Homo sapiens: one gene and its partners. The protein of the gene in region 7 interacts with the protein of the main gene of each other region in a pairwise test. Each region holds a gene or a part of one and is shown on either strand. Other genes may lie near its edges.

Region 1 (3,500 bases), on a different chromosome or scaffold from region 7:
AAAAAATTAGTTGGGCATGGTGGACGGTGGCATGTGCCTGTAGTTCCAGCTACTCAGGAGGCTGAGGCAGGAGGATCACTTGACACCAGGAGTTCGAGGCTGCAGTTAACCATGATTATGCCATTGCCCTGTAGCCTGGGTGATCGAGCGAGACTCTGTTTCAAAAAACATAAATGTATTTTTAAATGAATAATTAAGCTGCCTCTTCCCTTCACCCCAGCCCCCTTTCCCAGTGATGACCATTACCTTATGTTTTTATTTCCTCTCAGAAAATGTTTGAGTCATAGATCCGCATATTAATAATAAATTTTAAGACCGGCATGATGGCTCACGCCTGTAATCCCAGCACTTTGGAAGGCCAAGGTGGAGAGATGGCCTGAGCTCAGGAATTTGAGACCAGCCTGGGCAACATGGTGAAACCCCTTCTCTACTAAAACATTAAAAATTAGCCAGGCATGGTGGCGGGTGGCTGTAGTCCCAGCTACCTGGGAGGCTGAGGCACAAGAATTGCTTGAACCTATGAGGCGGAAGTTGCAGTGAGCCAAGATCCCGCCACTGCACTCTAGCCTGGGTGACAGGCGAGACTCCATCTCAAAAAATAAAAATTAGGCCAGGCGCAGTGGATCACCAGGTCAGGAGTTCAAGGCCAGCCTGACCAATATCGTGAAACCCTGTCTCTACTAAAAGTACAAAAATTAGCTTGGTGTGGTGGTGCGTGCCTGTAGTCCCAGCTACTCGGGAGGCTGAGGCAGAAGAATTGCTTGAACCTGGGAGACAGAGGTTGCAGTGAACCGAGATTGTGCCACTGCACTCCAGCCTGGGCAACAGAGCGAGACTCCATCTCAAAAGAAATTTAAAAATAAAATTAAATTAAATTAAAATTAAAAAAAAAAACAATAATAATCAATTTTAAAATTTACCCAAATGTTGTGATGATGTTTTTAGAATCCCTATGTTTTAGAGATATATACTAATATAAAATACTAATCTATGTCATAGTATAACATATATAATACAGTATAACACATACTGATGGAAACAATATTGTGTATGGTATTTTCTCCAAAATAATTGGGATTAGAAGGATAAAAAAAGAAACAAAATTGCCCATAAGCTGCTGATTGTTAAAGCTGCATTATGGGTACGTGCGGGTTCATTATTCTATTCTCTAATTTTGTATGTTTAAAATTTGCCACAATAAATAGTTAAAACCAGGAAAAAGTTACTCCAATTAGATTGTTTTATGAATGCTTTGCTTTTTTTCACGTAAGAACGTATTTTGTAGATCAGTCCATTTTTCTACGTCAGTCTTTTTAAGTATTATGTATACTATTCCACTATATACAAGTTCCACGATTTATTTAGCAAGTTCCCTGCTGATGAGTATTTAGGTATTTCTGTCCATAGCCCCTTGGCTTATTGAGTGCTGGTGTCAGTAGGGGCCTGTGGAGAGGGCAAAGTTTGTGCACTCCAGTCTACCTACTGGGACTCTTGAAATGTACACGTTAACTCCCTCTTTCCAGGAAGACTTTCAGGGGCCCCTCTGCTGTGACACTTACCACTCATTTGCTCAGTGTCCTGACATTACTTGCTGTTGGGTTTCCACAGAACATCTTACAGTGCTTGGCCTGTGATGAGAACTGGATTAGAGTTTTTTTTACATGTTAAGAAGATATGCTTAGTTTTCTCTCTGAAAGTTGGTTTTGACAGGATGATGGTGGCCCTTGATAAGTTGCTGAGGATAGGTATTTCAAATCAAATATGCTCGAAAAAATGTATTAGCTGTGACCGAAAAGCAATGAGATTGTGTTTTTAAAAAATATACTAGAAGCCAAACCTATGCCAGCCTTCAAAATGTTCACTTGGGATCTCTGCACCTGCTTCAGCATGTTGCACTGTCTCAATATTAATAGTCATAATTTTGGGAGTCCTCTTTTGGAATTGCCTCAGAGTCTGCTGTGGATCCCCATGAAATGAAATCACTTTGCTTTAATCACACTTCAGGTTTCAGGTAATACATAGATTGGTGAATGAAATAAAATAAGCAGTTTTTTAGCATTGTATTTCTTTTGATTTCATCCTTCCTGTGAAACATACTGTTAGTGTTTAAAATAATCATGATCAGTCTAAATTAAACATTGTATGTTTCACTTGTAATGATAAAGTTAGTGTTTATTATGTATGTTTTATATAGTATATACATGTGTATGTGTATATATATAAAATAAACACAAATACCAACAGTTGAAAGAAAAGAGAAAACGAGAGCAAATATCTTGTGACATCTTAGTATGCCATGCCATAGTACATGTATAAAAAGGGTATAGTTGTCTGTTGACTTGCTGTGTGTTAAATACATAGTCATCACAGTGGTGTGTGTTTTATGACTAAATCATGATGCAATTATCTTTGGATCGTAGACTGCACTTTGGGGAGCCTAGAAAAATAGACTCATTTCTACCTCAGGGGCATCCTTTCCAAGTTAGAATGCTATTTATACAATAAAATGCAATGGCTAACCTAGAGACTGACTACTTTCTATTTTCCTTTACTACTGAATCGCCCCCTCCAGCTGTTTAGTAACTTCTTTTTGTACAATCAATCATGTATACAATATGTGGCTGCCCTTTTCCTCCTCTGTAGTCTGTCCTTTAAGAAAACAAGAGGCTATTTGAAAAAGGAAAAGCATCTGTGAAATGACTATTTTCATAGGAGTTTAGAAAAGTTAAAGAGTGCCTTGGCCCTGATTCTAAAAGAAAGGTTGTATCTTGCTACTGCAAAGTGAGAACTTTGAATCTAGTTAGGGTTTTTTTCAAAGATACAGTTCCCTCAGTGGCCCCAGGTAGTAAGCATGATGGCTCAGATAAATAAATACCTGTTGGTCACACTGTATATAGTCTCTCTGTTAATCACTTAGTGTTTCATGTTTGCTTTATGAAAACGTTGAAAAGATGCATCATTTTGAACCTTCCTGGGTACAGGTTTCAGTGGTACCCACATGTAATTTTATGTTTAGTTTGGGATTTAATAAAATTGAAGACACAGAGTATGAAACTAGATGGATCTTGTGTAGTAACTGTTTCAAAATCAGATTCATTGCTAAAGTGTACAAAAGCAGAATTATACACAGAGAAAACCAAGTCCCAAGTCTAGATGGGTGTGGCAATGCGCCTCATGATCCATTAACTTATCATTAAGAGCATAGGCTCTAGAGTGAGCTTCCTGAGTTCAAATCCCAGCTCTGCTATATCTAGGCAGTTCTCATAGCCTCTCATCTATAAAATGGGGATAAGAGTGTTTTGGCATAGACCTGCTGTGAAGATTAAGCGAGAGCATCTTCAAAGAGCTTTTAGGAGCAGTATCTGGCATATAGCAAGAGCTCAATGAATATTCATGATTATTATATTAGAGACAGTATCAGTACAGTGGTGTGTTATAAAAGTTTGCTTTTCTCTTAATTATGAATTACCTATATTTTGGACTCTGAGTTACGACTTTCT
Region 2 (4,016 bases), on a different chromosome or scaffold from region 7:
TGGATGGATGGATGCTCTACAGTTCCAATAAGTTAAGACCCAAATGAAAATGCGCAATAATAGTTACCCTGCATTACGATGAAAAAATAATAAATTACACGTGCTAAGTTTTTATATATATATATATATATATATATATATACTCATAGGGATTACAGATCACTTGCAGCACGAACATAATGACCCCAAAGTCACATTCTAGCAGGAAAACAAAATACAACAAAACAACAAACAAAGAGCGGTGAAGGTTTTGTTTCCGCTTTCCCAGTCCTCCAGCACTGGGCCCTGGAACGCGGTGCCCCCTCTCCAATCCTGGCCTCTGACCGGCCTCAGACCGGCCTCAGACCTAAGAAAACGTGAGGTTGGCGGTCAGTTCTCGGATCCGGTTCTCTCGGCTCATCTTCTTGAGTTTCATTCGGCGGTTTTGAAACCAAATCTTGACCTGCCTGTCGGTGAGGTTAACGCTCTTACTGATCTCTAGGCGGCGCTCGCGGGTGAGGTACATATTGAACAAGAACTCTTTTTCTAATTCCAGCGTTTGGTGCTTAGTGTAAGGGCACCTCTTCTTTCTGCCACTCTTTGCAGTGAGCCAATTGCTGGTTGGTGTATCAGACTTGATTTCCTCTAACAAAATTAAAGGGAGAAGAAGAAAAAAATCAAGAGGTTTTTTGTTTGTTTGTTTTTGTTTTTGTTTTTGTTTTGGTTTTGGTTTTGGTTTTCGTTTTTGTTTTTTTCTTCAGACTGTTCAAATGTACCCTTGGCCGTGACCCTGCTGGCAGCCAGGCCGCTTTGGAAAATGCTAGTATTAAACATTACTCACATGAAGTGGGCCTTGGAAGGGAATCTTACATTGATGCCACATTACTTAAATGACATGATGGCAGGACAGTCTGCATTTGGGTTCTCGCTCTCTCTTTCAACTTTCTCACTTGTACAAAACATTAGTAGAATAGTAAACTTTCCAGATCTCCCCAGCAACATTCTAAGGGTTCAGCTCCTAACAGGGACGGAGGGGAATACGCCACGACCTGGACAAGCCTACCAACCCCACTGCTGCCTCAGGTCCCCAAATCTGCCACTTCTTCCCCACCTCTCCTAGGCAGTCAGGAATCCTGACAGTCAGGTTTATAGGTGCCCATTCTCTTTCAAAAGATAAATGGGGAAGCGAGACACCTTCCCCCACCTTGCCTGGGTATTGTTGCATTCCCCAGAATTTCCTTAATTTTCATGTCTTCTTGCCCCCACACTAAAGCATTCCCCCAGAAAGGGAGCCCCCTACTGTGGCCCACCTCTAAGCACTGGGGGAGAGGAGGAGGGTTCCTTCTCAAAAAGCCAGATCCCTGGCTCTTTGCCTTAGCCCAGCCCTAAGGCTGGCCTTGCAGGGAGGGCAATGCGGGTTCCACTCTCCCCCTCCGCCTTTGCCCTCTTTGCCGACGGATTGCAAAGACTGCAGCACTTTTCCTAAACAAAGCCAAGGTTACCTAGCCCAGCAAAGGCAGTAAGCCCTGTTTCCCAACTCAAGCACCAACCAGCCCAGCCATCTCTTTCCCCTCACCACCCCCAAGCTCGCAGGATGCGGGGTGCATACACTTGAACACGAACACGGTGCCCTGGATCACCTTAACATGATCATTGGGCTCAAGGCAAAACTGGAACTGCAAATCTGAGCAGGAGAAAAGAGGCTCTGTGGTCGTGTTTATGAGCCGCAGGTCTCCTTTGCGCTCTTTTGTTGTGTTCAGGTCTAGCTCAGGAAAAATAAAACCGGCAAGCTTTTCCTCTGCCCGGGCGCCATCAGCGTGGGGCCAGGACTGGCGGAGAGGGCCAGGGCAGCAGGGGAGAAGCGGGGACTATCTCAGGGCTGAGATCACCCCTCTAAAACCAGGCGGAGCAGCACCTGCCAAGTCGGGCTCCGGCTCGGCGCTGGGCACCCCGGCACTCCCTCTCTGCCGGGTTCCCGGGCTGCGCGCCCCGCTGGGGTGGCAACTCTGCTCATACCGACCTTTGCTTTCCTTCTCCTGCACTTCGGGACTGGACACGGAGACCTCAGCCAGGCAGCTCCTCTCTTCGGGAAGGCCGCCTTTGGCCTCGGGGCTCTCCACCTGGGAGACTTTGGTGGGCTCCTGGCCGCTCACGGGCTCGTTCATCTTCTTTTCCATCTGCAGCTGGGCAGCGGAGAGCTGCGGCTTGGCCGCGCCACGAGGGTTGAGCTGGAGCATGACAGTGGAGCTGCCTTCGGGGCTATTATTGTACTCTTGGGTTTTCCCGGTGGCGTAGGTCTGACTCAGTCTAAAATATCCAGGGACGGGAACCTCAGGGTTCTCAACGGGACAAGACTCAGGGACCAGCCTCTGGTACGAAGGGACCTCGGCCGAAATGAGTTTGTTGCGCTTATCAGAATACATGCAGCAATTGGATTCTTCCTTAATGTTGGTGGTGAAGGAGCAAGTGGGGACTTGCTGTGTAACAGGTTGCTCTATTCGACAAGATCTGTTCGGATCTGTCCAACTGTCTACTTGAGGTATATAAGGATGCACATTCATACCCATATTTTGGTGGTTCACTTCTCTTTTGGCCAGAGACGGGAGCAGTCCACAGGTTTGCATTCCATAGGTCCCCATGTCTGCGCTAGGTGGTGGCATGTACATGCTGGCGCTGCTGGAATAAAAACTGTCACTCCTGCAGGCACTGATCAAGGAATCTACTAAAAAAGTATTAGCAGCAGGAGAGCTGTTGGGAAAGGACATTTTGGGGAAGAATTTGAAGAAGAGAGATTGTGTCCTTTGTAGGCTGACATCTCTAGGAAAACATTCCCCGTGTAATTGTGGATGCCTCTGCCGACCACATGACAACCAAGCCAATGAGATTTGAAAATGGCCTTGAGCCGCAGCCTCCTCTCGGGTCACGTGCTCCAGAGCCTGGCCGGCCGGCCGGGTAAGCACGGACAACAGCGACATCTACTACGCGCCCGCGATAGTGCGCGCTGGAGACAACCGGCCCAGCGCTCTCCGCCGCCCTCCTGTCCGCCTCTCCAGGGCTCGCTCGGCCAGCCCGCCCCACTCGCGTCCCCCGCTTCGGCCCCTGGGCCCAACCGGCGGAAGGAAAGTCTCAGCTCTAGGGGCCTCCAAGTGGACACGCACGGACGGGGAGGGAAGCCAGAGTGCCCTGGCGCCAGCGCACAGAAGCATTCCCCCCACACACAACCAGGCAGAACGCGCTTAAGAGGGCCGGGTCCAGGACAAGCGGGTGGGGGCGCAGGCTGGTTAATTTAGTCCCGGGCAGCCCAGCGGGAAGGTGAGTCGGATTCCGCGGGCCCTGAGACATCCCACCCCAGGGGTCCAAAGGAAAGATCCCTTGGGGCTAAGAAGCGGCCAAGGTGTCTCTAGGAGGGCGGAGGCAAAAAGGGCCGCGAGGGCCGGGAGGCCAAGCAGCTGGCCGGGCCCGGATCCCCATGGATGGGTTGGTCCCTGCGTTGTCCTCCCGCTCGGTCCTCCTGCCTGGCTCCGGGTTCCTATGCGCCCCGGAGGGCTACACGAGGCTTCGGCTCTCAGAGGAACCACACCCTGACCTCTGCGGGGCCGGACCTCTGGGAGCTTTCAGCCCAGAGACAATTCTTTGCCAGCAGTTCACTATCCGCGAAAGCGTCCCTCGGGCTCCCTGTAGGAGAACTAAACAGAGGTTTCTCTCCCCACACCCTGATAATGGAGGGCAAACAGGAAGGAAGAAAGGAAAAAATAATTTAAGAAAAGGGGAAACTCTGACCCTCAGAATCCAGAAGTTTTAGAAAACTGACTGGGCCAAGAAGGACAGAGAGAAATGCAAAGGTGTCATTTTGGTTCTTCTGCAAAGAAAAATGTTTTCCTTTTATGGATTTTGTAAAAGCACTGGTTTCTGACAAGTGCAAGGTACAAAAGGTTGTGGAATTTATTAATACATATTAAGAAGAATCAGGGCGATCAATAAAATTCTCATCTACATTCTTGGGCTACTTGGTAATTTTCTTGCTTCTGAAGGTTTTT
Region 3 (3,946 bases), on a different chromosome or scaffold from region 7:
AAGCATGAACTTCTCAGGTAAGCCACTTAAAAAACCCAAACCAGAACAAAAAATACACTACTGAAGGCTTGGTAGTGTAGAGGTTGTTAAATGTGTAAATAGGCAGACAAACTGTATACCTCACCATACACTTGCTAAATGTCTCTTTGCAAATCTCTTAAGAGGCCAAAGAAAAAAAGACATCCCTTTGAAGGAGAGAAGCAAAATCACTTATTTAGTTAAGCAAAATGAACACTCTGCACAGGTTTTGAAATGAGGCTGTTGTCAAAAGCATGTTTTACCTTTCTCTAAAGGGGTAGGAGAATGTGTTTTAGTGGATTTTTAAAAATTCAGATCATGTTCCTATCCAACTTGAAAAATAAATTCATTTAAGTAAATCATTCATCATCCTCAGTTTTGAAAAGCTCAGACAGAAGGCAGAAAGGTAGAGGCTGACAGCTGCCCCTCCCTTACCCCCACCATTTTTTTTCTTTTTGTTTATTAGGAAATAGTTTTCTGAGACAAACTTGTATGAACCTAGTTCACGGAGCAAGCTTAATCCCCAACTTGCTTGCTTTTGAAATGTTGGCCATGTTAGCTGGAGAAGGAGCATTACTTACTAAAAATCAGCAATATCTGGAAATAATAAAGTTAAATTGTAGATGAATTAGCACATTAAAGTGCTTTTGTTGTACCTTTAAGCCTACAGGCAGATCATTAAATATGCATTTCGCTAGAAAGCAACTGTCTAGAAAGATAAGGTGGTTGAAAATATTCTACGGTGGAAAAGCCCTCCATCAGAGAGGTGGCACGGTTCGGCCCTCAGGATGGGAAAAGAAGGACCCTCCCACTGTTAGTTTAGGTTTGCAAGCCTCCAGTGACCTGCAGTTGTTACAGTACTTTTGAGCTGGGAGGAGGGAAAAGGTAAAAATACAAGTATGGCTGTTGTTGCTTCAGCCGGGCCTTAATTACCAGACACAAGAAGCAGTTCAGAAATCTGGTCTCTGTTGTTGTAGAGGTCACCAAATCATTAACATCGTCAATCTGGCAGTAGCTAATTTAAATAGCACCTGATGTTGCAACGCCTCCCTTCGTTTCCCCAGCCAATCAGATCCAGGCTTCGGCTGACAGATGGTCCCATAAATGGATGTAAAAAGGGGAAGCTTCGAGCCAATTTCAGCAAGGCTCTGTTCAGTTGTTCTTATCTACATCCTAGAATCGGGGGTTTCAGCTCACTGCTCCTTTTCTTTTTTTTCTTTCTCTCCCCCGCCCACCCCCCCAAAAATAATTGATTTGCTTTACAATCATCCACACTGTGTTTTGTGGATCTTTAATTATATATAACAATAGTAGTCATTTTAAATATATATTCTGAAATCTTTGCAAATTTTAACAGAAGAGTCGAAGCTCTGCGAGACCCAATATTTGCCAATAAGAATGGTTATGGTAGGTATGACTAGATTTATAATCTGTTGTTTGTGTTGCTGGAGGGAAGAAAAGCATCTACACCTTGACCAGTCTTATGCTTGCACAAGAGTTTAGTTCTGTGCTGCTGTTTGGTTCCTACATTTACTATCTCTTTTGTGTAGAGAGTGCGGGTAGGTCCTTTTATTGAAAAGCAATGGGGATATAAGATTGTCATTTTTAGCAAGTCGTTGTCAGTTTTCCCTTCAACATAAAGGCAAGGGGTGGAGGGGGAGGGCTGAAATAATTGCTGGTTTATTGAAAGAGGTTATATTACTTGAGACATAATGGCAAAAGAAGGGTTTTCTTTTTTGTAAGGGAGAGGGGGTTTGTCTACGTGCCTGGGTTTTGTGGGGCTGGGGGTGGATGCAGCGGGGTTAGGAATCTCTCAATTTCCGTGCTGGAAATTTAAACCTCGAGAGGCAGCTCCTGGATACTGAACACTGAGATGGGCAGTTGTGTTTCGGGGGACTGCGCAGTCAAAACGGCAAAGAGAGTGATTTATTTGGGCTTCAGTAAATGCTGCATCTTGTATTTCAAAGAGTTTCCTGTCATGACCTCATAAAAAAGAGGAGGCGGCTTGTATGTGTAGCAGTGCCTGGCGTGTTGAGTTGTTGCTTCCTTCTCTGGGCAGCAGCTCTGTAAGAAGGAATGTCAGCTTTTACATAACGTTCCTTTCCGCTTTTGACACACTGTGTGAGGGTCCATCTTCTTCTGATCACAGATGGAGTGGAATGGCTTGAAGATGGTAAGTGAAAAGAGGAAGGCAGCCTGGAGGTCCCAGCCCTGTGTGTGTGTGTGTGTGTGTGTGCTTGTATGTGTGTATGTGTAAGGATGCTGGACTGTGCATCGTAAATCACTGTGCTGATCGTTTGTGTGTGTATGTATGTGTGTGTTTATTAGTATTTCTCTTTTCTGAAAACCAGAATCCATCTCCAAGTGTAATGGCACTGCATGCACACAAGGCACACACACTGCCTCTTCCAGCAAACACACATTTTAGCCAAGGAAGGTTGGTGTCTTTTTTGACAATCAATGTCACCGTCACTGTTGGCTGGCGTGTCCACCGCCTCTGTGAGCCTTCAACGGAATTACACGACTGCTAAAGTTAAAGGCACATTTCTTTTTCAGTCTCATGCTAGGAGTGATGGGGAAGGATGGGAATGAGGGGTGGAGGAGGTGAGATTCAGTACCAGCCGATGCAATTGTGAAACAGGACTTTCGGATGTGGAAGGGGAAGTGGAAAACCTTTCTGCCGAAGTAGTAAATCTATTTTTAGCATCATCTTTTTCTGAAAAAAGAAGCAGGGAAACTCCTTGAGTGCCGCTTCTGTCGCCTGATGTTGACCCTGAAGATATGGCACAAAATGGCATGATTAGATGCCACGAGTGCCCACTTTGACTTTGAATTTTCACCAGCAATAGGTTTCACAAGGTTTCAGAGCTGGGTATGGGGGCAGGCTGTAAATTCATAACCATCTTACTTATTTTTCCCTAGAAAAGCCTGGGGAGGACTTTTTGCTCTGCATAGATGTTATAACAAAGCTGTGGTCTTTTTCCCATTCTTAGAGGATTGCCTTTGTCTGGCTGCTTGTTTTGATGGGTGTAAAACAAATAAGATTAGACCGAGCAGCCCAACTGAAAGCGATAGCTGGGAGGAAAACCCAATGAAAGGTTGCCGGGGAAACGAACAGAGGAGAAGCCGAGTAGGGAGCAGGTGGCTATCATGAGAACACACTGCAAACAGTGTAAAAAAAAAGGGGAGGGGGACAGGACCTCGATTATCTTTGCTGTTCTTTGTGGCCAGCCCAACTTTAATTATTCGTTATTAATAGGTGTTAATTACATTTCTAACTCTGGTTTACAGTGATTTTTAGAAATCTATTTTTAAGCATCTGTTCTGTCTCCCCTGTTTTTGTGTGTGTGTGCGTGTGTGTGTGCGCGTGTGGTTTTTGTTGTTGTTGTTGTTGTTTAAAAAACCCAGAGAGGAGGTGAGGGGGAAGGGAGGGTAGGGAATCTTGCTTTTTTTTTTTTCCTTTTTCCCCCTTTTCCCTGGTGTGAAATTGTACATGCGAAAAATCGCAAGGAATCCTGTGAGACCATTTGAAAAAATGTAAATTATATTGAATGAAGTTGACGGAAGCATAATAGTGAACTCCCACAGCTGATAGGTTCTGCAAATGATTTCTTAGAAATTTCCAGCAAATATTCATAGGAAAAATATAGGTAGAATAGATCTACCCTAAGCAATGATTTGGGGTTAGGTGATTTTGGTATTTTTACTAAATCGGATGTTGATACTATAGTTTCAGGGGAATTCATTGTACCTCTCATTTTTTTCCTCAGTAGAAATTACTTTACAAAATAATAAATGAAGAGCTTTTTGCTTTCCTTCTTTCCCCATGCCCACAGTCACAGGATCCATCAGGCTTGCACTCTCATAACCACTGCCTTCCATTTGGCATTTGGTCCTGATTCTGGTCTTGGCACAAACTGAGTGAAAA
Region 4 (3,500 bases), on a different chromosome or scaffold from region 7:
GTTAGCACATGCCTGTAGACTTGGGAGGCTGAGGTGGGAGGATTGCATGAGTCTGGGAGGTCGAGGCTGTAGTGAGCCATGATCGCACCACTGCACTCCAGCCTAGGGGACAGAGCAAGATCCTGTCTCAAAAGAAAAAAATGTATATATTTGAATGGATAAAGAGATGGCTTTGAGTTTCTGAGATATATATGGTGCTGTTTATCTAAAGTAAACAAGTTTTCTGTAAATATTTTAAGGCTTTGCAGGCCAGCTGTAGTCTCTGTCACACATTCTTATTTGTGCATGTTTTTCCCAACCATGTAAAAATGTAAAGTGCATTCTTAGCTACTGGGGCAGGTTGAATTTGGCCCATGGGCTAGAGTTTGCCAACCCCTAACTTAAACCTTTGTACTAACTTTATGACCACTACTGGATTTTTGTTGTTGTTTGTTTTAGTTCTGGTGCCTGCTTTGTTTTTTTTTTTTTTTTTAATCCTCTTGCTGATGTTTCTTGGTGCAGTTACTGTGCCATTTGTATTGGTGCTTTTAATGTAATGCAAACTGGTAATAATATCTAAACTTGCTGGGGTTGTACATAAAATTATTGAAAAGATTGAAAAGATGCTGAGCATTGACTCTGTGGCATTCATTATGCCCTTTTGTGATTGCTGGATTTTAGCCATCTTTAGGACATTTGAGCTTTAGGAGAAGCCAAATTCTGTATAAATGACTTGAAGTGCTAATAGCACAGGTTTTGAAACCTCTGCCTGGGTTTGAGTCTCAGCTCTGCCTTTTACTACCTGTGTGATCCTGAGCAAGTTACTTAGTATCCCTGTCCTCTAGTTTCCTCCTCTGTAGTGTGGGGATAATAACATAGACATAACCTGAGAGTTAGAGTGTAGAGAAGGCTCCCTGGCAGATAGTGCTGTAGAAGTACTGGCCATTGCCATTACTCAGGTGCTTGTGTTTGCTGAACCTCATAGTAAGGGCTCGGAGAGCACTAAGAGGAGGTGAGAAATGCTGCTAGATTGACAGCTTGTCCCCAGATAGCCCATTCCCGAGAGCACCTTAGGTTTATACCTGATTTGTGTTGTAGTTAGTAGTGTCTCTGGTAATTTGAACTAGTTTCAGGTTGGTCTTGAAAACCTGGGGAGGTTGGGGGTAAATGATTTGGTAGCAGTTCTCTTTTGTGATTTTATACATTATCTTTGTAGAACTGCAGTTTGCTAATTCTCTGAGCCCAACACAATGAAGTCTGGGCCTAAAATCATAGAATTTCTTTTATTTTTTTTTTTGTTTTTAATTTATTTATTCCCTCCCTCCCTCCTTTCTTCCTTTCTTCCTTTTCTTTCTTTCTTTCCTTCCTTCCTTCCTTCTTTCTTTTCTTTCTTTCTTTTCTTTCTTTGGAGTCTCACTCTGTCACCAGGCTGGAGTGCAGTGGCACGAACTTTCTTCAGAGTCTCACTTTGTCACCAGGCTGGAGTGCAGTGGCGCGAACTCAGCTCACTGCAACCTCCGTCTCCTGAGTTCAAGAGATTCTCCTGCCTCAGCCTCCCGAGTAGCTGGGACTATAGGCATGTGCCACCATGCCCAGCTAATTTTCTTATTTTTAGTAGAGACGAGGTTTCACCATGTTGGCCAGGATGGTCTTGATCTCTTGACCTCGTGATCCACCTGCCTCAGCCTCCCAAAGTGCGGGGATTACAGGCGTGAGCTACCACGCCCAGCCTATTTTTTATTTTTTGAGGCAGAGTCTCACTCTGTCACCCAGGCTGGAGTGCAGTGGTGCAATCTCAGCTCACTGCAACCTCCGCCTCCTGGGTTCAGGTGATTCTCCTGCCTTAGCCTCCTGAGCACCTGGGACTACAGGCGCCTGCCACCACACCTGGCTAATTCTTATATTTTTAGTAGAGGCGGGGTTTCACCATGTTGGCCAGGCTGGTCTCGAACTCCTGATCTCAAGTGATCAACCTGCCTTGGCCTCCCAAAGTGCTGGAATTACAGCCATGAGCCACCATGCCCAGCCAAATCATGAGATTTCAATACCGCTGAACTTTGATTATGGCAAAGTGAACTTCTGCTTTGATTAAAGCTTGATGAGAGAGGTGGCTGGGGATAGTTTGAGATAAGGGCAAGGCAGGAAAATGCATAATCTTACGTGGGCTCATTGTCATTGTACAATTCTTTTGGTCCATGTGGAATTTGATCCGTCCTATGACTTAAGTTATGTTTATTTTTGTTTTTATTTTTATTTATTTTGTGTCTTTTTGAGAGACATGATGTTGCTCTGTCACCTGGGCCAGAATACAGTGGCACAATCTTAGCTCCGTGTAGCCTTGAACTCCTGGGCTCAAGTGATCCTCCCACCTCAGCCCCTCAAACAGTTGAGATTATAGTATGAACCACTGTGCCTAGCCTTAAGTGATTTTTAAATTTGTACTGAACAGTTTGTCCTTTCCTTCCATTAAATCATATTAGAAGTACAGAACTTGATATTTCCTGTAGCAATACAGTTTTTCTTTGATGAAGTTTGATTTCAAGTACTTATTTTTCATAATTTAAAGCTATTTTTTATAGAGAGAATTTTAATCAAATATTTGGATGTCACTATTGCTATATATGGTATTAAGTATGGTGACCATAGTTTGTAAACTCCAAACTGACAGCAAGACAGGAAATTTGTGTTAGCAAAGGCTTTTTTCTTACTGTTTGAATTTTTTAAAAATTAGATACAATACAGAGAGGAGCACACAAATCATTAAGAGTACAGCTCAGCGAATTTTCACACAGTGAACATGTGTAAACAGCAAGTAACAAAAGATTTACCTGCATCCTATAACCTCCCATTATTCCCTTTTCTAGGTACTGTCTCTCCACTGCATTCCCACCAAATATAACCACTATGCTGAATTCTGACATCATAAATGAGTTTTGCCTGATTTTGAGCTTTTGTGACTGGAAGTGTACAGTGTATATACCCTTTCGATTCTGTCCTCTTTAGTTTACCATTGTTTGAGAAATTTATCCATACTGTTCCAGAATTAACTACTGTTAATTATTGTTAATTAACTACTGTTGTAGTTAATTCATCCTCATTGTTATCTAGTATTCTTTTGTGAGTAAACACAATTTCCATTCTACTGTGATCCCAGCTATCCATTTGGGTCGTTTCCAGTTTGGGGTCCATTACAAATAGTAATGCTATCTGTAATGCTATTTTGTATTACTACAAATAGTAATGCTATTTGTGGCACAAAAATACTGCTTTTGTGAACATTCTTATACATGTCTTTTGATGAATGTATGTTTGCATTGCTGTTGTTTACATTATGTACCTAGTAATGGAATTGCTAGATCATAGGAGATGTATATATTAAGCTTTAGTGGATGCATTACATAATTATTAGTTATTATTGGTTATACCAATTTATCCTCTCATCAGTAGTATACAACAGTTTCTGTATCTCTAATCTCCAACATTTTAGCCATTTTAGAGTTTGTGTACTAACACATTGTGGT
Region 5 (3,500 bases), on a different chromosome or scaffold from region 7:
TCTGGCCATAACTGAAAAACAAGCACTTCCAAGAAGGGGCAAAGGGAACATGAATTTATGCTGAGAGGCGTAGCTAAGCATACATATTCAACAGATTATGGGAGGATCTATGAATATTCACAAAGGGAGGATCTATGAATATGCACACATGTGGAGTAAGCTAACGTGTGCAGCATGTCTCCCATGTTCACCTTAGGCAGAAACTTAACACTAACATGTATTACAGGGCAACAAAATGAGACTGCATATCTACATAACCTAGCTATTTGGTAGGCTGAAGCAGGAGCATCACTTAAGACTGGGAGTTCGAGGCAGCTGTGAGCCATGATCGCACCACTGTTCTCCAGCCAGGATGACAGGGCAAGACCCTGTCTTAGACCACTCTGTGGTCAGTGGTTATCAGGAAGGAATGCTAGTCAGTTGTGCTGAAACCACTAAAAAGGAAGGGCAGAATTAGGTGATGAGTTGATACCAGTGGTGAAGTGAGTCTTTTTTTTTTTTTTCTTTTTGAGATGGAGTCTTGCTCTGTTGCCCAGGCTGGAGTGTAGTGGTGTGATCTCAGCTCATCGCAACCTCCACCTCCTGGGTTCAAGTGATTCTCTTGCCTCAGCCTCCCGAGTAGCTGGGATTACAGGCGCCTGCCACCACGCCTGGCTAATTTTTTTATATTTTTAGTAGAGACTGGGTTTTGCCATGTTGTCAGGCTAGTCTTGAACTCCTGACCTCAGGTAATCCAACTGCTTTGGCCTCCCAAAGTGCTGGGATTACAGGCAGCTCCAAAGTGCTGGGATTACAGGCATGAGCCACCATGCATGGCCTGAAATAATTTTTTTGAAAGGGCTAGTTTCTATTTAGCCCTTAGGGGAAAAAAAACTAATGGCAGTTAGGGAGGGAATAGAACGAGTCCTGTTTGAACTCCTTTCCCATCATGGCCAAAACTTAAAATTTTTTTTAGATATCTCTGGGCTCCCCTTGGCCAAAAGATAGTTTGTTGAGTCAGTTGGGAGCTTAGAATTTTGTTTTTATTTCTCACATCATTGAATCAATTTGAACCAGGCGACAAAACCTTCTGCTCCCAGTAGTGGGTCAGAGAACCTTCCTGATTCCTGCCCTGAGATTGTCTCTCTGAAGACAACATTAGGCTAGTAGGCTTTCCAGATTCTGTAACCCATTCTTTCAAAGGAAGAGATGCCTATATTTTTCTAGCCAATTCATATACCTTGAGTATCACTCAAGGGCAAAATTATTTCTAACAAATCATTTACTAATTAGCAAATGCTTAAGTGTAGATTTAGAAAGCTAAAGCTATACAGTGGCTGCCATCTATAGTTTGGACTTGTGATTAACTACATTGAAATGCTAACTCTGTACCCTAGAGTATGAATTCCTGATTAGAGTCCTTCAGGTGCTAACTAATTTATGTATTTCATGTTTGATAATATTATTACTTGAGCTTTGTGGGAGAGCAGTCTTTTCCTCCCCTGAGATATAGCTAGAAGTTACCTCCTTTGTGAAGCCTTCCTAGATACTCCAAGCAGACACGGTCCTTCCTTTCTCCCTTGCCCAGCACTCTGAGGTTGACTCTGTGGAGCACTGATCCCTCTGTGTTATAATTGTCTATTTACACGTCAGCTACCACCTATAACACACTGAGTTCCTCAACAGCAGGGACACTGTCCATTCTTTGATCCCAGTGTCTGGAACAGTGCCAAGTACATAGTAGGGACTTAATAAATATTGATTCATATGTAAATGAGACTTTTCCAAAACATGCTTTCGTTGATGCCTCTCAGCATTTATACACCTTTTACCAACTCGCTACTGGCCACATAGACAAATGAAAGCAGTAATCCAGATACACCCAAGAGGACATCTGTTCTTTTTTCTCTCTGTGGAGTGGGAGACTTAAGTGGCTTCTTAACTGGTGTGTCGTCTGATCAAGTGGTCCAGGTAACAGGTGGATGCCAATGTCTGGCCCAGGCATCACCCCTTACTGGCACTGGTCATTACAGAAGACACTCTACCAGAGCTGAAAGGACCTCTTGTCACTAGGCAGCTGTGGAGTCCGCTCTACTTGACCTAGTAAAATCTGCCTGGAGACTGTTAGAGTCACCCCACTACCTGAAGTTACCTCCAGGCTGACCTCTTTTTTTTCCCAGGTGGAGTCCTGGCATCTTAGATATTTTAATAAGGATTTGCTTGTTGACATGTTCTTTATTCACTAAGGTGTCAGCATATTACTGTCTTAGAACTGAGGGTTCTTCATCTTTTTTGGATCAGGACCTCCCTCTAAGAATCTGATGACTGCTCTGGTCCCTCTCCCAATAAAAACTTCCATACTCACCTGTTAAAAAAAAAAAAAACTTTAAACAAATTAACAGAGTTTTATTCAGCAAAGAATGATTCATAAATCGGGAAGGCTGCAACCAGAATAGGTTCAGAGAGACTCCACGGTGTGCCACGTGGTTGGAGAGGATTTAGGATTTATGCACAGAAAAAGGAAAGTGACATGCAGAAAATGAAAGTGAGGGCCTGGTGCTGGTGCGGTGCCTCACGCCTGTAATCCCAGCACTTTGGGAGGCCGAGGCGGGCAGATCATGAGGTCAGGAGATCGAGACCATCCTGGCTAACACGGTGAAACCCTGTCTCTACTAAAAATGCAAAAACTTAGCCGGGCGTGGTGGCAGGCACCTGTAGTCCCAGCTACTTGGGAGGCTGAGGCAGGAGAATGGTGTGAACCTGGGAGGCGGAGCTTGCAGTGAGCCAGGATCCCGCCACTGCACTCCAGCCTGGGCGACAGAGCGAGACTTCATCTTAAAAAAAAAGAAAAGAAAAAGGAAAATGAAAGTGAGGTACAGAAACAGCCAGGTTGGTTACAGCTTGGTGTTTGCCTTAAACTTGGTTTGAACAGTTGGCCGCCTTTGATTAGCCAAAACTCGGTGATTGGTACAAGAGTAGATTGCAGTTCACTATGTACAGAGAAGCCCTTAGATCCGAACTCAAAATAGGTAAGGAGGCAGTTTTAGCTACACTTAAGTTAACATACTCAGGAGTACCATTCCAGCTTCAAGCTGGAAGTGTCTGCAGCCCCCTGAGACCACTTAATCCCAAGTTAAAAACCCCTGCTCAGAGGCAGCATCTTTTTTTTTTTTTTTTTTTTTTTTTTTGAGAGAGATCTCACTCTGTCACCCAGGCTGGAGTGCAGTGGCACGATCTCAGCTCACTGCAACCACCACCTCCTGGGCTCAAGGGATTCTCTTGCCTCAGTCTCCCGAGTAACTGGGATTACAGGCGCGTGCCACTATGTCCAGCTAATTTTTTTTTTTGTATTTTTAGTAGAGATGGGGTTTCACCATGTTGGCCTGGCTGGTCTTGAACTCTTGACCTCAAGTGATCCACTGGCCTCAGCCTCCCAAAGTGCTGGCATTAGAGGTGTGAGTCACTGTTCCTGGCCCAGTGAGGCACCATCTCATTGGATATGGAGACAAAGGATCTGGCTT
Region 6 (3,500 bases), on a different chromosome or scaffold from region 7:
TTGTTGATGGCTGAAAGCAGAATGCACTGAATTAAACTAATTTAGTCCATTTATTGCTTATCAGGCTCAATAAGAAAAATCTGCCAGGAAAATTTCGCTAGCGTTTGGAGTGTATTAGCCCTTTTTTTTTTTTTTTTTTTTTTTAATGGCAAAACCAAAATTACTTCACCGAGACCCAGGGATACAGTGGTGGTTTTTCTTTGGTACTCTTTTTGTGCCTCTAATAGGCTAGATTCATTCAAAGTGTACTTTTAATGGGGGAACAACATGGTATTTTTAACAAAGTTGTTTTATAACTGGCTTTGAAACTGAATGTTTTTAGTTATTTGAAGTTGAAGACAGGACATGCCCTATTTGATATGTCAGAGATGTTTGGATATAGATCTCTTTGGGTGTAGATCAGTGTGGAGAAGTTCCAGCATGTGTGTGGAAAGTCACTGATAATCCACTGTGGAGTTTTCTTCATTTTAAAAATGAGCAAGCATTGACTTCTAATTGTATTTCCACTTGGAACTTTCTTTATTCTCTTTGCAAGAATAAGGCTTTTAGAATTCCTTTTTTCAAACTGAACTGTTTACTGAACGTTTTGTTTTTTAGCCATTCTTTTCTGTTTGTCAGAATCTGCTCAGCCAGTACAAAGTCTGTTTGGAAATAGTGTGTAAAGGTGAAGTAGAAGGGGCACTGACATCTTGTCCTAGATTTTCCTCCCCAAGTCCCACGGTCTTGGGCAAAACAGAGGCTGTCCAGCTGTGTCTTATTTGCATAAGGAGGGTAGGATGGGCCAGGATTCTAACACTTCAGATCTGTGCAGGTATAGATGTTAAATTATCATCACCAAGTAATTCAATTATAATTTTTTGTTTTCAAAGTGTACTTTTAATGGGGAACAACGTGGTATTTTTAACAAAGCTGTTTTATAACTGGCTTTGAAACTGAGTGGTTTTAGTTATTTGCAGTTGAAGCTTTTGCAGGAAAAAGCTCTATTCTGCTTTACTTGGTGCGTTCTCGTCCTCAATGAGGTAATTTACTTTTATTCTCGACACAGAAGAATTGTAAATAGTCCTTACATTCCTGATGGGAGAAATCTTTTTAATGTGTTCATAATTCTTGCTCTGAATGTTGAATGGGTTTCTAAAAAGTGATTAGCGAGTTGTCATTAGTTTTCAGTATGTTTGTGTTACATGAGCCTTATTTAAAGGCATCCCATGACTATACTTCGTAAAGTATATGATCATCACTTACTTTTGCTTATAAGTCTGGATGTTTATAAGATTTGCATAAAGTTAATACTGAAGGAAGGAAACCTCGTTAAGAGAACATATCTAGTGCAACTATAGACATTTTCTTTCAAATAACTATTCTATAAGATGAAGTAATAGAAGTAGTTTTTTTCCTGTTACCTTCTTGCTGTTTATTGTAGATTTTCCTCTTAATGAGGGATCCTCAAATTATATTTCATAATTTTTATTGTTTTATTTTTCTTTTAAAAGCTGGGGGCTCTCTTCCCTATAGCATCCAGACAGCTGAAAAACAGAATTGGCTGCATTCCTATTTTCAGTAAGTAATTGGTTTAGACTGCTGCTATTGCTTCTTTAGGAATTAGAGTGTTATTTATGTCACTGGTTTGTTTTTTTTTTTAAAAGGAACTTTATGTAATATAGCTATATTCTTTCATCTACATATGTTAGTGATAGAAATAATTTAAAACAAGGTTTTGAATTTTTTTTGGAATAGGTTTTTAATACCAAAGAGGAAAATTTATTGCTGTGAGGTTTCTATTTAAATATTGGCATGCCAAGAAAGACAAATAGAAGATCATGTTGGGTAGTTTAGAATTTACATAAGCAGCATTTTAGTTCATTTTTCCAAAATATAAAGTATCATTATTCTGTCTGTACCGTCACACATGCAGCTGCAAGCTTGTTGAGGGCAGATTCTTTGCTGCCGTTTCCTGAGGATACAGGACAGTATCTGGCGTGTTGTCAGAGTTCAGTAAATGCTGAGTGGACAAGTGAAGGGAATGTCCTTCACCCTCCTCCAGCCACAGCAGTTGCACAGCCTGCATATGCAAGGCCAGTCTGTTTCATGCTTGTCTCAACAGGTGTTTGCTGTGCTGGTTAGCCAGAAATGAAAGCAGAATTACTTTGAATTATAGCTTTCAACTGTAAGTCAGTGTGTAATCCTAGAGCTTTTCTTTAGTGCTTTCTTGAGAGGTTTTTCCTTACAGAGGACATTTCTTTAAATTGAACTCATTTAAATATTATATTATTAAATTCACTTGAATGAAGACAGTGATGGTACCTACCTAAACCTGATTCTGTTTTCACAGACCATCTGTTAATCTGGAGGGACCATCCTCTTATATTCATAAGTAAAGATTGTTGCTTCATGATATAGGTTCCCATAGAACCATAGTCTGCAATATTGGAAACTTAGAAACCAAACTCAGATTTGTGAATGTCAGCATTTGACTAAAGTATTTCTGCCCTCGCTTTTCAACATTCATTTTTTTCATATACTGTTTGTATTTTGCCTTTTTTGTATTTTGTTTCATTCAACAAGCTTTTGCTGAGCCTCTACTCATAACACACCGTGGAAGCATGATTCTTCCCTTTAAGGAGCTCACAGTTCAGGCAGGAGACATATACACACATGCTGTTAAAAGCACAACAGAAATAATATGTATGCATGTATGTATGTTCATGGCAAAAATGGAAAGGCTATATGCTGAAAGGTTGCAGTGCTTCTTGTGAAAAGTGGGAAGTTTATAATTCTAAAATGGGCATGCGTTACTTGAATGGAGTTTCATAAAATCTCACAGGTCACAGAGTCGTGTAGCCACTGTTGATTTTTAGATAATAGGCTCTTTGTTTTCATGCAGTTTCCTAATATTAGGATTATGATCAATTTTATTTCATAATTAGTAACTTTTGTCTTTTCTGTCACTAGCAAATGGTCAGCTGAGACTTCTGGCCGCAGCAATGCCATGCCACATATTAAGACATATATGAGGCCTTCTCCAGACTTCAGTAAAATTGCTTGGTTCCTTGTCACAAGGTAAATAGTCCTTACATTCCTGATGGGAGAAATCTTTTTAATGTGTTCATAATTCTTGCTCTGAATGTTGAATGGGTTTCTAAAAAGTGATTAGTGAGTTGTCATTAGTTTTCAGTATGTTTGTGTTACATGAGCCTTATTTAAAGGCATCCCATGACTAATCCCTTTGTAAAGTATATGATCATCACCTACTTTTGCTTATAAGTCTAGATGTTTATCAGATTTGCATAAAGTTAACATTTACTTCTGTTATTTAATACCTCAATAGGGGTTATGCAAATTGACATTTGGGGTAAGTACAGAAGAATAATGAAATGTTAAAATTAATATTTTTTTCTTAATTAGTTTCTCCTTAGGTAATTGAAATCTGAAGCAATCAAATCTCTTATGTGTCCTTTTCTAAAACATCTTTAAGGTGTAATTCACGTACCATAAAATCTGCC
Region 7 (3,500 bases):
ATGAAGTGGCTACATTTGTCACATAACTTAGTTTCCTAAATGATTATTTTTGCCGGTAGTTCATTTGTTTTAAATCTAAGAAAACCACGTTTTCTGGAAAATTAAATAGCTTCCAGCATTCTCTTCATTTCTAAACGTACATACATTTAAAATCAAGTTTTTGAGAACATAGTTTCGAACACCAGCTGGCTAGTTGATCACAACTATCACTGAGTCCAGAATGGGACAGGCACATTTACTTTTTCATTTTTTCCCTTCCATTGTGGCCTTAAGCACTAGATTTAAACAGATTTTAAGATGTTCAAATGTAAACTGAATGTTTTTATGCATGGTTTTGTATTTCTAACTAAAATGGAAGACAGTAGTTCTGATAATTCCCATTTTATTAGGTAATTCTCATTCATTCTTACGATCATTTTGTTATTTCTTTAAAACAATTTAAAATAATTTTAAGGCCTTTATTTTGGAGCCATAATTAAAGTATTCTTTTCATTGTCCATAATTAACTGTAAGAATTGAGAGGTGAAGTAAAAGGTGGTTGTAAAGTAAGATGTTTAATTTATTGTTTACTTTGGCCTCTCATTATCTCAATTCTGTTTGTTTCTATGAGGCTTATTTCAAATGCTTTTTTTCTTTAACCTTTTTCATTTATCTTTCTAGGCTGTCCTCCTTTCATCTGTACATTTCTTCCCCAGCCAGAATCAATTTCACTTTCCCTGCATGCTCTCATAACATTTATTTTTTATTTTTATTTTTTTGAGACAGAGCCCCATTCTGTAGCCCAGGCTGGAGTGCAGTGGCACAATCTAGGCTCACTGCAACCTCCGCCCCACTGGGTTCAAGTGATTTTCATGCTTCATCCTCCCAAGTGGCTGAGACTTACAGGCACGTGCCACCATGCCCGACTAATTTTGTATTTTTAGTAGAGATAGGGTTTCACCATGTTGGCCAGGGTGGTCTTGAGCTCCTGACCTCAGTTGATCCGCCCACCTCGGCCTCCCAAAGTGCTGGGATTACAGGTGTGAGCCACTGCACCCGGCCTCATAACATTTATTTTTTAAATTTTATTTTATTTTATTATTTGAGACAGGGTCTTGCTCTGTTGCCCAGGCTGGAGTGCACTGGCACAATCTCAGCTCACTGCAACCTCTGTCTTTCCGGCTGAAGCAGTTCTGCCACCTCAGCCTCCCCAGTAGCTCAGACTACAGACACGTGCCACCATGACTGGCTAATTTTAGTATTTTTAGTAGAGTCAGGGTCTCATCATGTCAGCCAGGCTGGTCTCGAACTCCTGGACTCAAGTGATCTTCCCACCTTGGCCTCCCAAAGTGCTAGGATTACAGGCGTCAGCCACCACACCCAACTTAAATTGTATTTAATAATAATAATAATTATTATTATTTTTTGAGACAGGGTTTCGCTCTGTCATCCAGGCTGGAATGTGGCGGCGAGATCTTGGTTTGCTGTGGCCTTAACCTCCCTGGCTCATGCAATTTTCCCAACTCAGCCTCCCAAGTAGTTGAGACCACAGGCATGCACCACCACACCTGGCTGATTTTTGTTTTTATGTTTTGTAGAGTTGAGGTCTCATTATGTTGCCCAGGCTGTCCTAACATTTAATTTACCCTTTATTAAATGTTTTTGTTTTGTTCCTCAAAATGATAAGGCTTCTGAGGCATTTATCTATAAATCCCTATAATAGCTAGATATGAACCTGTTACATGGTAGTTCAGTAAACATTTATTAGCTCTCCAACTCGTTTTAATGCAGTAGATGGAATCTTTTATTTCATTTTAATTCAGTGGATTTTAACCATTTTACCTTGCAAACACAACTGAGCCATACCACACTCTGTAATTACAAACAGTGGCTATGATAGGGATGGGAAATAGAGTAGGGAAGAATGGTATTCTTCCTCTTATTGCCCTATCCTGTCATCTCTGAGGTTAATTGATGTCTTTGAAATTTAATATACTCCATTTAAAAAAAATTTTCCCTAATTACAAAAATGTTATGTTTAATGTAGAATCCATAGAAATTATAATTACTTGCTTACTTTACAGATAAACTTTTAAAATACTTCTGTGGTATTCTTTTTGTTAGTCATTTACGGGTGTGTGTGTGTGTGTGTGTGTGTGTGTGTGTGTGTATTTCTGGTTTCATTTTGAAGGAGAGGAGAACCTCACTAGCTCACGTAACCTGGCAGCCGCATGTATTATTGATCCATATAAATAATGGAAGAAAATTTTAATCTTGATAGGATGTTGAGCACATGTGTTAAGGGGTACTTTGTTTGAAATACCTTATTGCTTAGTGTGCCAATATTGGTGTTGATGAGGTGTGAAATTTACATAATTATGAAAATAAAAGGAAAAATAATTTTGGATTAAAATATCTTGTCCATTCAGGGACAAGATAATTATTTGATATTTCCTCTCAATCCTTTAATATTGTTTTGTTTAGAATAATACCTGTATCATTCAAAATAGTTTATAATATTGTTTATAGTTATTGTTTAAATTGGCTTTGTTAGAACATAATGGCAAAAACACAGAATACTTTCATGGTAAATAAAATAATAGTTCTTTAGGATACAGTATTTGATTTGATTCAGACTTAAGTATAAACAAATCTATTAATAGATTTATATTTGTTACTAGTTTAGCTATTTATATCTTCCTTGACTCAGGTAAATTTTCAAATAGAAAATACATTTTTAATATAGTGCTTTTAAATATTTTTAATATTTTTAATTATTTCAAAGGCCAACATGTATAGAACAGAGAGCTTTGCATTCATTTGGACTACAGATACTCCTCTGGTTATGTCCCAATAAATCCATCATAAATTGAAAATATCCAAAGTCAGAAATGCACTTAATACACTTAACCTACCAAACATGATAGGTTAGCTTAACCTACCTTAAATGTGTCTAAAACACTTACATTAGCTGACATAACATCTAACACAAGTCCTGTTTTATAATTAAGTATTGAATAGCTCATGTAATTTATTGAATATCGTACTGAAGTGAAAAACAGAATGGTTTTGTTACCAACAGAATGGTTGTGTAGGTACTCGAAGTAATTTCTACTGAATACCTATTGTTTTCTTACCACCATGAAGTTGGAAAATTGTTAAGTCGAGCCATCTGTAGTCATATAAAAGTATGGTGACTCATCTTGTTTGCTTTATATGAGATTGAAGTCAAATTTTACCTTCTCAGGGGATGTCTTTTCAAGTTTTTAAATATCTCAGGCAATATATCTGAATAAGTTCACATCATATGTCTTTATTGATTAGAGATTTCTCATTGATTGGTATGAGGCATAATAATTATTGACTATGAGTGTTACTTATTTTTTTTCTTTTTTTTTCCGAGATGGTCTCGCTGTATTGCCCAGGCTGGAGTGCAGTGGCACATTCTTGGCTCACTGCAACCTCCGCTTCCTGGCTCAAGCGATCCTCCCACCTCGCCTCCTGAGTAGCTGGGACGACAG

Evidence for each region.
Region 1: the proteins of PIAS1 (region 7) and APBB2 interact in binary tests that used the Homo sapiens proteins (3 or more experiments, as listed by UniProt).
Region 2: the proteins of PIAS1 (region 7) and HOXD10 interact in binary tests that used the Homo sapiens proteins (3 or more experiments, as listed by UniProt).
Region 3: the proteins of PIAS1 (region 7) and ELAVL4 interact in binary tests that used the Homo sapiens proteins (3 or more experiments, as listed by UniProt).
Region 4: the proteins of PIAS1 (region 7) and ATXN3 interact in binary tests that used the Homo sapiens proteins (3 or more experiments, as listed by UniProt).
Region 5: the proteins of PIAS1 (region 7) and FXN interact in binary tests that used the Homo sapiens proteins (3 or more experiments, as listed by UniProt).
Region 6: the proteins of PIAS1 (region 7) and TDP1 interact in binary tests that used the Homo sapiens proteins (3 or more experiments, as listed by UniProt).

Annotation. Positions count from the first base shown.
Region 1 is NC_000004.12:41,008,543-41,012,042, reverse strand, and holds part of APBB2 (amyloid beta precursor protein binding family B member 2), read left to right. Parts: intron 1-3,500. UniProt on the Homo sapiens protein: Plays a role in the maintenance of lens transparency, and may also play a role in muscle cell strength. Involved in hippocampal neurite branching and neuromuscular junction formation, as a result plays a role in spatial memory functioning.
Region 2 is NC_000002.12:176,115,562-176,119,577, reverse strand, and holds the start of HOXD10 (homeobox protein Hox-D10), read right to left. Parts: upstream 2,801-4,016; 5' UTR 2,745-2,800; coding exon 2,000-2,744; intron 625-1,999; coding exon 347-624; 3' UTR 1-346. UniProt on the Homo sapiens protein: Sequence-specific transcription factor which is part of a developmental regulatory system that provides cells with specific positional identities on the anterior-posterior axis.
Region 3 is NC_000001.11:50,107,774-50,111,719, forward strand, and holds the start of ELAVL4 (ELAV-like protein 4), read left to right. Parts: upstream 1-1,146; 5' UTR 1,147-1,416; coding exon 1,417-1,425; intron 1,426-2,059; exon of another isoform or gene 2,060-2,167; coding exon of another isoform or gene 2,168-2,191; intron 2,192-3,946. UniProt on the Homo sapiens protein: RNA-binding protein that is involved in the post-transcriptional regulation of mRNAs. Plays a role in the regulation of mRNA stability, alternative splicing and translation.
Region 4 is NC_000014.9:92,100,083-92,103,582, reverse strand, and holds part of ATXN3 (ataxin-3 reference isoform), read left to right. Parts: intron 1-3,500. UniProt on the Homo sapiens protein: Deubiquitinating enzyme involved in protein homeostasis maintenance, transcription, cytoskeleton regulation, myogenesis and degradation of misfolded chaperone substrates.
Region 5 is NC_000009.12:69,056,252-69,059,751, forward strand, and holds part of FXN (frataxin, mitochondrial isoform 1 preproprotein), read left to right. Parts: intron 1-3,500.
Region 6 is NC_000014.9:89,990,427-89,993,926, forward strand, and holds part of TDP1 (tyrosyl-DNA phosphodiesterase 1), read left to right. Parts: intron 1-1,490; coding exon 1,491-1,557; intron 1,558-2,949; coding exon 2,950-3,057; intron 3,058-3,500. UniProt on the Homo sapiens protein: DNA repair enzyme that can remove a variety of covalent adducts from DNA through hydrolysis of a 3'-phosphodiester bond, giving rise to DNA with a free 3' phosphate.
Region 7 is NC_000015.10:68,088,815-68,092,314, forward strand, and holds part of PIAS1 (E3 SUMO-protein ligase PIAS1), read left to right. Parts: intron 1-3,500. UniProt on the Homo sapiens protein: Functions as an E3-type small ubiquitin-like modifier (SUMO) ligase, stabilizing the interaction between UBE2I and the substrate, and as a SUMO-tethering factor. Catalyzes sumoylation of various proteins, such as CEBPB, MRE11, MTA1, PTK2 and PML.